2 separate regions of the Homo sapiens genome follow, and region 1 is linked to region 2. Evidence: fine-mapped expression QTL. Tissue or cell type: monocytes. Region 2 holds a variant in brackets; the other region holds the start of a gene. All regions are shown on one strand. Distances are from middle to middle.

Evidence for each region. PIP is the estimated chance that this variant, and not a neighbour inherited with it, causes the effect.
Region 1: it holds the start of ATG101, and the variant in region 2 is fine-mapped to the expression of ATG101 in monocytes (TOPMed, PIP above 0.99).

What each region holds. Positions count from the first base shown.
Region 1 is chr12:52,067,239-52,072,667 of GRCh38, reverse strand. ATG101 (autophagy related 101) reads right to left here and starts at 2,690. Exons shown (of 4, transcript NM_021934.5): 1 at 2,426-2,690; 2 at 2,185-2,314. RefSeq lists enhancers at 2,342-3,057, 2,935-3,224.
Region 2 is chr12:52,152,913-52,158,341 of GRCh38, reverse strand. No RefSeq gene overlaps it. Among named protein-coding and RNA genes, the nearest start is that of KRT80, 36 kb to the left of the region's middle. The variant C/T (reference allele first, on the strand shown) is at 2,253.

The DNA.
Region 1 (5,429 bases), 86 kb after region 2:
GAAGCCATGAAGACTGGGCTTTAAAAACATGACTCTCACACACACACATATACCAAATCTCACCTATTTCTAGAGACACCCACATCCACAGACTCCAGGGTAAAAACTTGTGGATTTAAGGCACAAAGGCTGGGCACGGAAGTCAGTTAAAGACCACTACAGTAGATGTAGTTACAGAAGCAGCATAATCAGGTGTGGGCGGTTTTTCATGTCCTACAGTCCTGGGTTTGAATCCCACCTCATCTACATCTTGCTCTATGACCTTAAGCGAATCACTCAACCTCTCTGAACTTCTTATCTGTAAATGGGGATAGTAGTGAGAATTAAGGTAACACATGTAAAATACAGTAGAATAGTGGTTGAAAACGATGACTTGAAAGCCAGACAACCTGGAATGGAACCCCAGCTCTGCCACTTGCTCCATGCTCATGATCTTGGGCAAGCTGCTTAACACCTATCTGCCACATATACAAAAGAGATAATAATGGCTACCTTGAAAGGGTTGAGGGCTGAATGAGCTAGCATGTATAAAACACTTAAATAAGTACCTGACAAATGGTAAATATCCACTAAGTATTAGCTGCTATAATTCATTATTACATTGTTACTGCCAAGAGATGATGCAAGGCTATAACACAGCAGTGGTAGAGAGAGTAGGAAGGAGAGAACAAGAGACTTGAGAACTAGAACATAATAACTAAATACATGCCCAGAGGGAGAGGGAGCTTCAAGTTCCTTATAACTCAGAGTATTCAGCTTGCAAACCTCCCCTGACTGGGAATTCACTAGCTCTCACAACAACCAGTCAATGTTCAGGAAGTTCTATTCAGTTATTCTGATTTATTTATTTATTTTATTTATGAAATGGGGTCTCACTCCATCACCCAGGCTGCAATACAGTGACACAATCTCTACTCACTGCAACTTCTGCCTCCCAGGCTCCCATCCCAGCCTCCCAAGCAGCTGGGAACACAGGCGAACACCACCACACCTGGCTAATTTTTTGTATTTTTGGTAAAGAAAGGGTTTTGCCATGTTACCCAGGCTGGTCTCGAACTCCTGAGCTCAAGAGATCCACCCGCCTCGGCCTCCCAAAGTGCTGGGATTACCGCACCCAGTCCAGTTATTCTTTCTGCTGAAGAATCTGTCTCTTAGTGCTTCAAACCACTTTTAGTTTTAGTTTTGGTACCCAAAGCCACACAAAATAAGTCTCACCTCTTTTCCACAAGTGAGTTTTTATTTAGGGGCAGCTATTCCACCACCCCCTCACCCCTTCTACAGGCTGAAGGTCCCCAGTCCTCAAAAACATGTCTGTTCCACATCACATCTTATCTGCATGGAATCCTAGCAGCTCTCCTCTAAGTATATTTCACTCATCTGGTTGACAGATGGTGAATATAAAAAGTATATTTCAGTTTGTGTCTGCCCCTTTTAAACTGTTGCTCAGCACAGGATACAGGGCAACGGTCTGTGGACCGCACAGAGATCAGGCCAGCTCTGCCTCTCAGCTGGCGATCAGCTCGCGTCTACCTGTACTATCAAGCACCATCACGTTTTGTTTTTGTCTCTACCACTAGGCAAACAATTCCTATATTCTGCTTATAGGGCAGAGACTATATTCCATTCATCACTATAATGGTAATTCCTAGTACCTTCTACAAAACAACTGCTCAATTGAGCCCAACCCAGGAATTCCAGGTTCTTCCAGGGGTTGCTGGATTAGTTTCTCCTACATGCTTGGATCAAGAAGGAGAAGGGCTCTCTTGCTCGTTTTGCCCTCCAGTTTTACTCCATCCAGCAGTTTTCTTCCCATCTAGAGACTCCCGGCTCTGGTCCGGCTCCCTTTCTTCCACGACTTCTCCCTCTTGTGTCCCCCGCAATCGTTCACACAAGCCACACATCTCACTTGTGCCCCAAGCCTGGGCTCCTCCCTCATTCTACGTGCTATTTTAGGATCCACTCCTCCAAGAAGTCAGTCCTGACCAACCCCATTCTCCTTCCCACAGCTGCCACATTTGGTCTGTGAAAACCTTGTTGTCCCCTGCCCCACACAGTGAGCAGTGAGCAAGCAGGGCCCACCAGAGTAGGGTCTGGAAAGTCTCGTCCCTCTTGTCCCCCCGAGTGGCAGAGGCTAACAGCCGCCTTCTCAAGCCTGGCTGGAGCACAGGGTGCGCCCATTCCCACCTTGAGTGTAGAGTTTGGAGCACGGATTCCTCAAGCTCGGCTCATGCCCTTCCTCCTCCTCCTCACGCCCTGGTGCGACCTCCGCAGGTACGCTTCAACCTCCGCACGGCGCTGAGCCACAAGAGACCAGCTAAAAGCAAAACCAGAAAACTTACTTGGCTCCATATCAAGAGACTCGGGACGGACGCAGGAAGGAATTCCCGCCCGGGTCCCGTATCCCCCGCCGCCACTACGCGCGAACCTCCACAGTCCACGTAACCAGGGAGGAACGGACTCCTCGGGTGTCTCGGGGGCGGCGCCCCGCGCCCAGGCTGGCTGGACTCGGAAGCTGGAGGAGCGCCCGCGTTCCACTGCCCCGGGGGATGCCCACGCCGGCACAGGAGAGGGGGCACACGGTTAAAACAGCTCCCACCTCCCCCAACCACAGTCCACGACCAGCCTCTCAGATGCCACCACTCTCCCGGCAGGCTCCAGACCACCTGGGTCGGAGGCTGAGCCGGGACCGGAAGCCGCACCGCCCCCCGCGCGCCGGGAAGCTCACCAGATCCCACGGCCCCGGAGGGGGCACCTGCCCAGCTCGCCGGGCCCCCGCACGCATGTAGCCGCCCACAACATCCGCGTAGTCACAGAAGCACACGCAGATAGTCATGCGTTGCTCTCTGATCTGGGGGCTGCTCCTTTCGTGGTTATGTCTCGGATTTTAAGAGTTGATGGTGATGAAGATCCCCCTCATGTGGACGAGTCCATTCAGCCCACCACCGAGAACGCTGTGGTGTTTCGGCCCGTACAACTCACTTCCGCCATAGAGACTGGAGGGAAGGAGGAGCCCTACGGGCTCTCGGCCGCCTCCCTAGGCCGAGCGGAGTCATCGGCGGCGAGCCTGGCCGGGAGACGCTGACGCGGTGCCCAACTCAGTCCGGACTGAGAGGTCTGGAAGGAACACTGATCACCGCAAGATGAGGGGCGTACCCCGTAGAGAGAGGTCCTGGAGATGAGCCCACACCGCTGTACTGCAGGACGCCCAGTGGATGGCAAAACTTGAGTTTGTTGAATGTGCGTAACAGACGGGATCCCTGGCCCTCCACCCACACAGATGCTGGAGAAAGGGGCTTCATCTCTCAGTGTTGCCTTTATGCAGCAGCACTACTTGATACCCCATGGTGACCAATCTGGTGACAGTCCTTCGGAGGCTAGTAATTCGGCCATTGCTTCTCTGCGTGACCCTCAACATCACTCATCCTTTCTGATGCTCTCTATAAACAGGTGGCTGTTGTGAGGATCACAGGAGATAACTCATATGAAAGATTTCTGTGACCTGTAAAGTCTAATATGAATACAAGTGTATTTTTAGTGCTGTGTAACTTCCTGGAGCGCATTTGGTTCTCCATGTAGATTGTAAGCCCAGAGCAGACAGGGCTTCGAGAGCTCGGTTAATGCACCCACCTCCAATAGGAGGCAGTATTTTTTTTTTTTTTTTTTTTTTTTTTTTTTTTGAGACGGCGTCTCGCTCTGTCGCCCAGGCTGGAGTGCAGTGGCGCTATCTCGGCTCACTGCAAGCTCCGCCTCCTGGGTTCACGTCATTCTCCTGCCTCAGCCTCCCGAGTAGCTGGGACTACAGGCGCCCACCACCACGCCCGGCTAATTTTTTTTGTATTTTTTTTAGTAGAGACGGGTTTTCACCGTGTTAGCCAGGATGGTCTCGATATCCTGACCTCGTGATCTGCCCGCCTCGGCCTCCCAAAGTGCTGGGATTACAGGCGTGAGCCACCGCGACCGGCCAGGAGGCATTCTTAAGGTGTTAGCTGGGGATTACCATGCTCATTTTCTGGCCCATTGGGGTGCCTCACGCCTGTGATCCCAACATTTTGGAAGGCTTAGGACAGAGCATCACCTGGGGCCGGGGGTTCAAGACCAGCCTGGTCGACATAGTGAGACTCCCATCTTTAAAATAAAAATTAAAAATTTAGCTGGGCGTGTTGGTGTACCCCTGTAGTCCCAGCTACTTCAGAGGCTGAGGTGGAGGATCACCTGAGCCCAGGAGGTTGAAGCTGCAGTGAGCTATAATCACGCCACTGCATTGCAGGCTGAATGACAAAACAAGATCCTGTCTCAAAAAGAAAAAAAAAAAAAAGTCGGGTGTGATGGCTCATGCCTGTAATCCCGGTACTTTGGGAGGTCGAGGCTGATGGATCACTCGAGGTCAGGAGTTTGAGACCAGCCTGGCCAATATGGTGAAACCTCATCTCTACCAAAAATACAAAAAAAAAAAAAAAGCCAGGTGTGGTGTCAGGCACCTGTAATCCCAGCTACTTGGGAGGCTGAGGCAGAAGAATTGCTTGAACCTGGGAGGTGGAGGTTGCAATGAGCTGAGACTGCACCACGGCACTCCAGCCTGGGCAACGGAGAGAAACCCTGTCTCAAAAAAAAAAAAAAAGCTGATTTTTCTAACACATGCTTTTATTTCCCAAAACGATAATAGATAACATTTATTAGGTGGAATGGAAAGGTCATGATTTTAAATACCATATATGTGTACATATAAATTTAAACCTGATACTAATCAATCCTGCAATATAGATAAGAAATTGGGCCGGGCATGGTGGCTCACGCCTGTAATCCCAGCACTTTGGGAGGCCGAGGCAGGTGGATCATTTGAGGTCATGAGTTCGAGACCAGCCTAACCAACATGGTGAAACCCTGTCTCTACTAAAAATACAAAAAAAAAAAAAATAGCCAAGCTTGGTGGCACACACCTGTAATGCCAGCTACTCCGGAGGCTGAGTCAGGAGAATCGCTTGAACCGGGGAGGCAGAGGTTGCAGTGAGCAGAGATCACACCACTGCACTCCAGCCTGGTGAAAGAGCGAGACTCCGTCTCAAAAAAAAAAAAAGAAAAAGAAAGTGACTGGGGAGAGGTTAAGTAAGTGGCCCAAGGTCATTCAGTAAATAACAGAGCCTTGAGTTCAAATCGAAAGCTCTTTGCCACTATGGGAGCTCTCTTTCTGGCTGGCTTCTTCAGCCAACTCTCTCCTATGTACCACCACTCTCCAATACACCCCCACCCACCAGTGGTGTCCTGATAAATGCTTCACACCTGCTCTCTGGTAAGGGAAATGCCTTGATTTGTAGCATTTGCCCATTTCCTATCATAGGTGATTTCAAACTACAAGACATCAATGAATGCAGAGTCCAGAACGGATGGATGATTGCATCTTGATCGTCAAGGTTAAAATCAGCCCTTGAGGG
Region 2 (5,429 bases):
CGCAGTGTCTCACGCCTGTAATCCCAGCACTTTGGCCGGCCAAGGCGGGTGGAACACCTGAGGTCAGGAGTTCGAGACCAGCCTGGCCAACATGGTGAAACCCCGTCTCTACTAAAAGTACAAAAAAATTAGCTGAGTGTGGTGGCAGGTGCCTGTAGTCCCAGCTACTGGGGAGGCTGAGGCAGGAGAATCACTTGAACCCAGGAGATAGAGGTTACAATGAGCTGAGATTGAACCACTGCACTCCACCCTGGGTGACAGAGTGAGACTCCATCTCAAAAAAAAAAAAAACAAGAGATGAAGAAACAAGCCACGCAGAAGCCTGGGGAAGACCATTCCAGGAAGAGAGAATAGCAAGGCCAGAGGCCCAGAGGCAGAACAGCAAGGGCAAAGGCCCGGAGGCAGAACCTGCCTATCATGTTTGAGGACTTGCGAGGAGGGATGAGGGGAGAGGCGGGGGGTTCAGCCTACACTAGGCCTCAGGGGCCACTGTTGAACCTCAGCTTTGACTGAATGAGATGGAGGGTTTGGATCTGACCTCTGCAGTAAGAGGCAGGGGACCACAGCAGTACCATAATATCTGGACTTTTCTCAGCCTGCATTTGATAAGCAATAAAAGAGGAAAGGGCCTTCCCTGCCAGTCTCTGCCTTTTGTCCCATAATTTCCACTTCAAATAATCAAATGGGGGGAATAGTGATCATTTTGTATCCCAAGTATCCTAAGATACTCCCCCCGTTAGAATGTTAGCTCCCTAGCAGTGGCAGGAGCCACTGAGTGTGACTTGATCATTACCATATCCCCAGCGCCTTGCAGTGGACCTGGCACTTAGTAGATGCTTGGAGAAATGTGCAGACATACCAATGACGGAGGCTCTGGCAACCTCTCATAACCTCCAGGGTGACGTTGCGTGTCCAGGCCTGAGCTGGACACCTGGAAGACATTGCCCCATTCAGGAGAGCTCAGGTCACCCAGAGGCAACGCTGAAGTCAGACCTTGAGCGTGCCTGACTCTAGAGCCCTTGCCTTCCTTCCCCTCCTCACTGTCACCAAGAGCCAACACCCCCTGCCTCCAGAGGGACATGCAGGCCAGTGTGGTCACTCTCACCTCCCTCCGGCTCATTGGGCCCGGAATGTTCTCAGAGGGTGAGGGATTGTCCCTGTGTCTGTCCTTCTGAGGGTCTGTGAGTCTGTTGGAGAGGGCCTGTCCCTCTGGGGAGGATGTGTATATCTGGCCCTCTGGGAGTCTGCCCCTCATGTTGCAAAGTTCATGTTCCTCCACCCTTTCCCCGCAGGTGGGTCTGTGCCCGTGGTTCAGCCCTACCCTCCCCACTCCCATTCCCACCTGCTTGTTCCATGGCTCCCCACCATCTGCAGGCTCTGAGCGCCCCCTGCTGACCACTGCCTCATCTGCACCTCCACGCCCAATGGGGAACCAGATACCTATGGCCTGGGGTCTGGGACAGTGCAAAGAGCTGTTCCTGGGGCGAGGTGAGAGGATCGCTTGAGCTCAGGGGTTCGAGACAAGCCTGGGCAATATAGTGAGACCCCATCTCTATCTAAAAATAAAAATAAAAAATAAGAAAGAGGTAAGTACAGGGGGCAGGATTAGCCTCCTTGAGGCCTCTACCCCTGACTGGGGGCTGAAAAACACCTAGGCCCGCCTCCACACCTGGCCTTAATCTCTTTCATCCCATCCGCCACCTTCCTATTCAACACTCATCCCTGCCAATCCTACCTCTCCCCAAGCGCCCCTCCTTCGAAGTCCCTGTACCACCAGCAAGGCCATCACACATCCTGCTGTGACACTGACTCAGTGGGACTGACATGCAAATAGATTCCACACATGTGGTGAGTCAGGAGCCTGAGAAGGGGACACAGGCTGAGTGAACTGGAGTGAGGTCAGCCTTTGGAGATGACCACATATACCTGGGGACATGGCTATCTGCAGATATGAACACACATATGCACAGCCTATGCACACACCTACTCACAAATGCAGGCACACTGTGCACAAGCATATGTTCTTATGCATATGTTCACATGTGCACACATACAACACATACATGTGTACCCAACATACGTGCATTGTGCAAACATAAGTGCAAATGGACATCTGTGTGCACACCTCCATCCCTGGGCGGAGACATCCACGCCTACATGCAGGTGTCCTCAACAGGCGCAGGCAGACTGAGGCCCACCATCAAAGCACACATCCGCACATGTGCATACACATAGCCCTTGATCAGTGCTCA[C/T]ATGCACACACGTCCACAGGTGCCAGGAGTATAACTGGACTGAAGTCAGACAGACCTCAATTTGAACCCTGACCTGGCTTTATCACTCAGTTGCTCTGTGACCCTGAGCATCTGCAACTTTCAGAGCCTCAGTTTCCCCACCTGTAAAACTGGGTAATAAGGATGCCTGCCTATAGGGTTGGGAAGATTAAAGGAGACAATACATGGAGCAGACCTGCAACACAGACCTGCAACACAGCTAATGCCAGCAAGCATTAGCTGGCAGAACCCCAGCCTCAGACCTGTATATAACTGTGACTATAAAGTAATGAGAAGGGTCCCCTCTGGGGCGTGAGTCCCCCAGCACAGGCACACACATACACATGCACACACACACACACACACACACACACACACAGAGGCTGCTCTGTGTTTCTGCTGTTTACAAAGCTGCCTAGCTACGACCTGAGATCAGGAGCATGTGGGCTCACTTGGGAGCCCCACCCTTCCTCCCCAGCCTGTCAGAACAGGGCCTAGCGGGGAATCCTGCATTCCTCCTCCTCTTGGCTACAGCCTTTAGGGGTACAAAATGGAGGCCTTGGAGTCCTACTTCCCCCAGGCCCCCCCATAGGCTTTGCCCTTTTGCAGTGGATTGTGGCTGCTTTAAGGAGCTCCCTGAGATTGGGGGAGACTAGGGTCCCCCTGGAGGCTCTCCAGCCTGCCTGACAGTCCTCTCCTCAGCTCCATCCCCCTACAAGCCCGTGGCTGCTAAGACCATGTTTCTGGTGGAGGGAGGCCCACGGTGTCCCACCACATACTCTCCCCATGACCTCCTGGAAAAAGGAAGATGGCCAGTGTCCTCCTCTCCCGAGGATGCTAAGTCCCCTTGCAAAACCCTGCCCTGACAGGCCACTGCTGCCCCAACCCCCATGGCCACCCCAGTGCCTAAGCACTGAGGGAGAGGAGTTCCCTGTCGTGTACTCAGAGTGGAGAATAACTTGAGCTGATAAGCTAACTCTGAAGACCTTCCAGGGGATCAGGGATAGCCACATGGCCCCACGTAGTTTCAAGGTCAACCCTCGAAAGTGTAGCTTTCTGGCTGGGTGCAGTGGCTCATGCCTGTAATCCTAGCACCTTGGGAGGCCGAGGCAGGTGGATCACCTGAGGTCAGGAGTTCGAGACCAGCCTGGCCAACATGGTGAAACTCCATCTCTACTAAAAATACAAAAAATTAGCCAGGTGTGTTGGCCCACACCTGTAATCCCAGTTACTTGGGAGGCTGAAGCAGGAGAATCATTTGAACCCAGGAAGTGGGGGCTGCAGTGAGCCAAGATCACACCGCTGCACTCCAGCCTGGGTGACAAAGTGAGATTCCATCTCCAATAAAAAAAAAAAAAAAATTGTAGCTTTCAGCTGGGAGCAGCTCATGCCTGTGTGTGATCCCAGCACTTTGGGAGGCCAAGGCAGGTGGATGGCTTTGAGCACAGGAGTTCAAGACCAGCCTGCGCAACATAGTGAAACGCCATCTATACAAAAAATACAAAAATTAGCCGGACATGGTGGCATGTGCCTGTAGTCCCAGCTACTCAGGAGGCTGAGGTAGGAGGATGGCTTGAGCCTGGGAGGCAGAGGTTGCAGTGAGTGGAGATCGTGCCACTGCACTCCATCCTGGGTGACAGAGTGAGACCCTATCAAAAAAGAAAAGAAGGTGTAGTTTTCAGACACCAAACACTCGACCTATCAAGCCTCAAAAGGCTAATATGGGTCCCTTCCCCTTACCTGACCTTACCCCAAGCAGAAGAGAAACACAAACTTGTGCCTGTTCTGGTACTGCCTGGCCTGGCCTCTCCTACCTGATGTCTCTGAGGGGAAGTTGGGGCACGTTGGAGCCTGGAGGAACAGCAGAAATTGCTGCCATACTTAGCAGACAATGATCCCCTTCCTTTAGTCCTCTGAAAACTAAACCAGCCAAAAAGTAGCTGGTACAGCCCAGGTAGGCCCATCCCCTCCCATTTCCCTCCAAAATAGGTCAGGGCCACCTCACACCTCAGGTTTGGGGATATAGTGGGTAGCACAGGCATCCTCCAGGGGGTAACATACTAAAACCATGAATGTCACCTACCCCTCATTTTACAGATGGAGAAACTGAGGTCCAGAGAGAGGAAGGGCCTTGCTCTAAGCCGCACAGCCTGTCAACCAACAGAGCAGGACTTTAAACCAGGAGCTGGACCTCCTGACCCCTCCCCACAGTTTTTGGAGACGGTCAGGACTCAGGTGACCCTCGAACTCTGAGCGTTGCCCTATGTCCTAGCACTGCCCCGCTGGTGGAGAAGAAAGGGAAAGAGGGGATATACCAGTGGAAACAGCTGATGCCCTCTGTCAAGGAGCAGGCTGAGGGGGACCTTCCCCCAGGGCTGAGCCTTAGGGTTAGTGGGATTTACATTGCCCAGACAAGGTCTCTTCTGGAACTTCGAAGCCCAGACCATGGCCAGGAGAGTGTCACTGGTATGGCCACAGCCAGACCTGGGCTTGGGAAGGGGACCCTGAACATATTCTGAGACACACACCCTCTCTTTGCCGTTTCAAACCAACCCAAAAAATGTGGAGATAGGGAAAGGGGAAGAGAGCACTATGCTGGGAGTCAAGGGCCCTGGTTCTCGTCCTGCTTCTGCCGCTAACTTGCTGGAGGAACTTGAGCCTCAGTTTACCCATCTGTCAGACAGAAATGAAGTTTGCACTCCCCTCCCCCCACCACCCTCCTATGCTGCCAGAGCCTGCCCTTCATGGCCTCAGTCTCTCCCTCCAAATGCCAGGAATGTGCCTCCCACTCCCCTCTCTGTCCTGGCCCTGCGGGTCAAGGGCAGGGTCAGCAGAGGCTGAGGGGTGAGCCACTCTCCAGCCCCTTCCAGGCTGCCCATGGCCCCGGCTTCCCCTCAGAGACACCAGGCAGGGGAGGCCAGGCCAGGCAGTACCAGAACAGGCCAAAGTTTGTGTTTCCTTCTCAGTCTCCCACCTTCCACCCACTCACCTAGCCTGGGAGCCATGGGCAGCCATGGGATGAAGCTGGGGCCCCAAGAGGCCCGTTCCTGAGGAGCCTTGCCCTGGGGGGCTGCCAGTCTGATAAGGGAGGTGCCTGACGTCATAAGCCTTACCTACTGATCAACACCACAGTGCTTCGAAGTAGGATCATCACTCTCT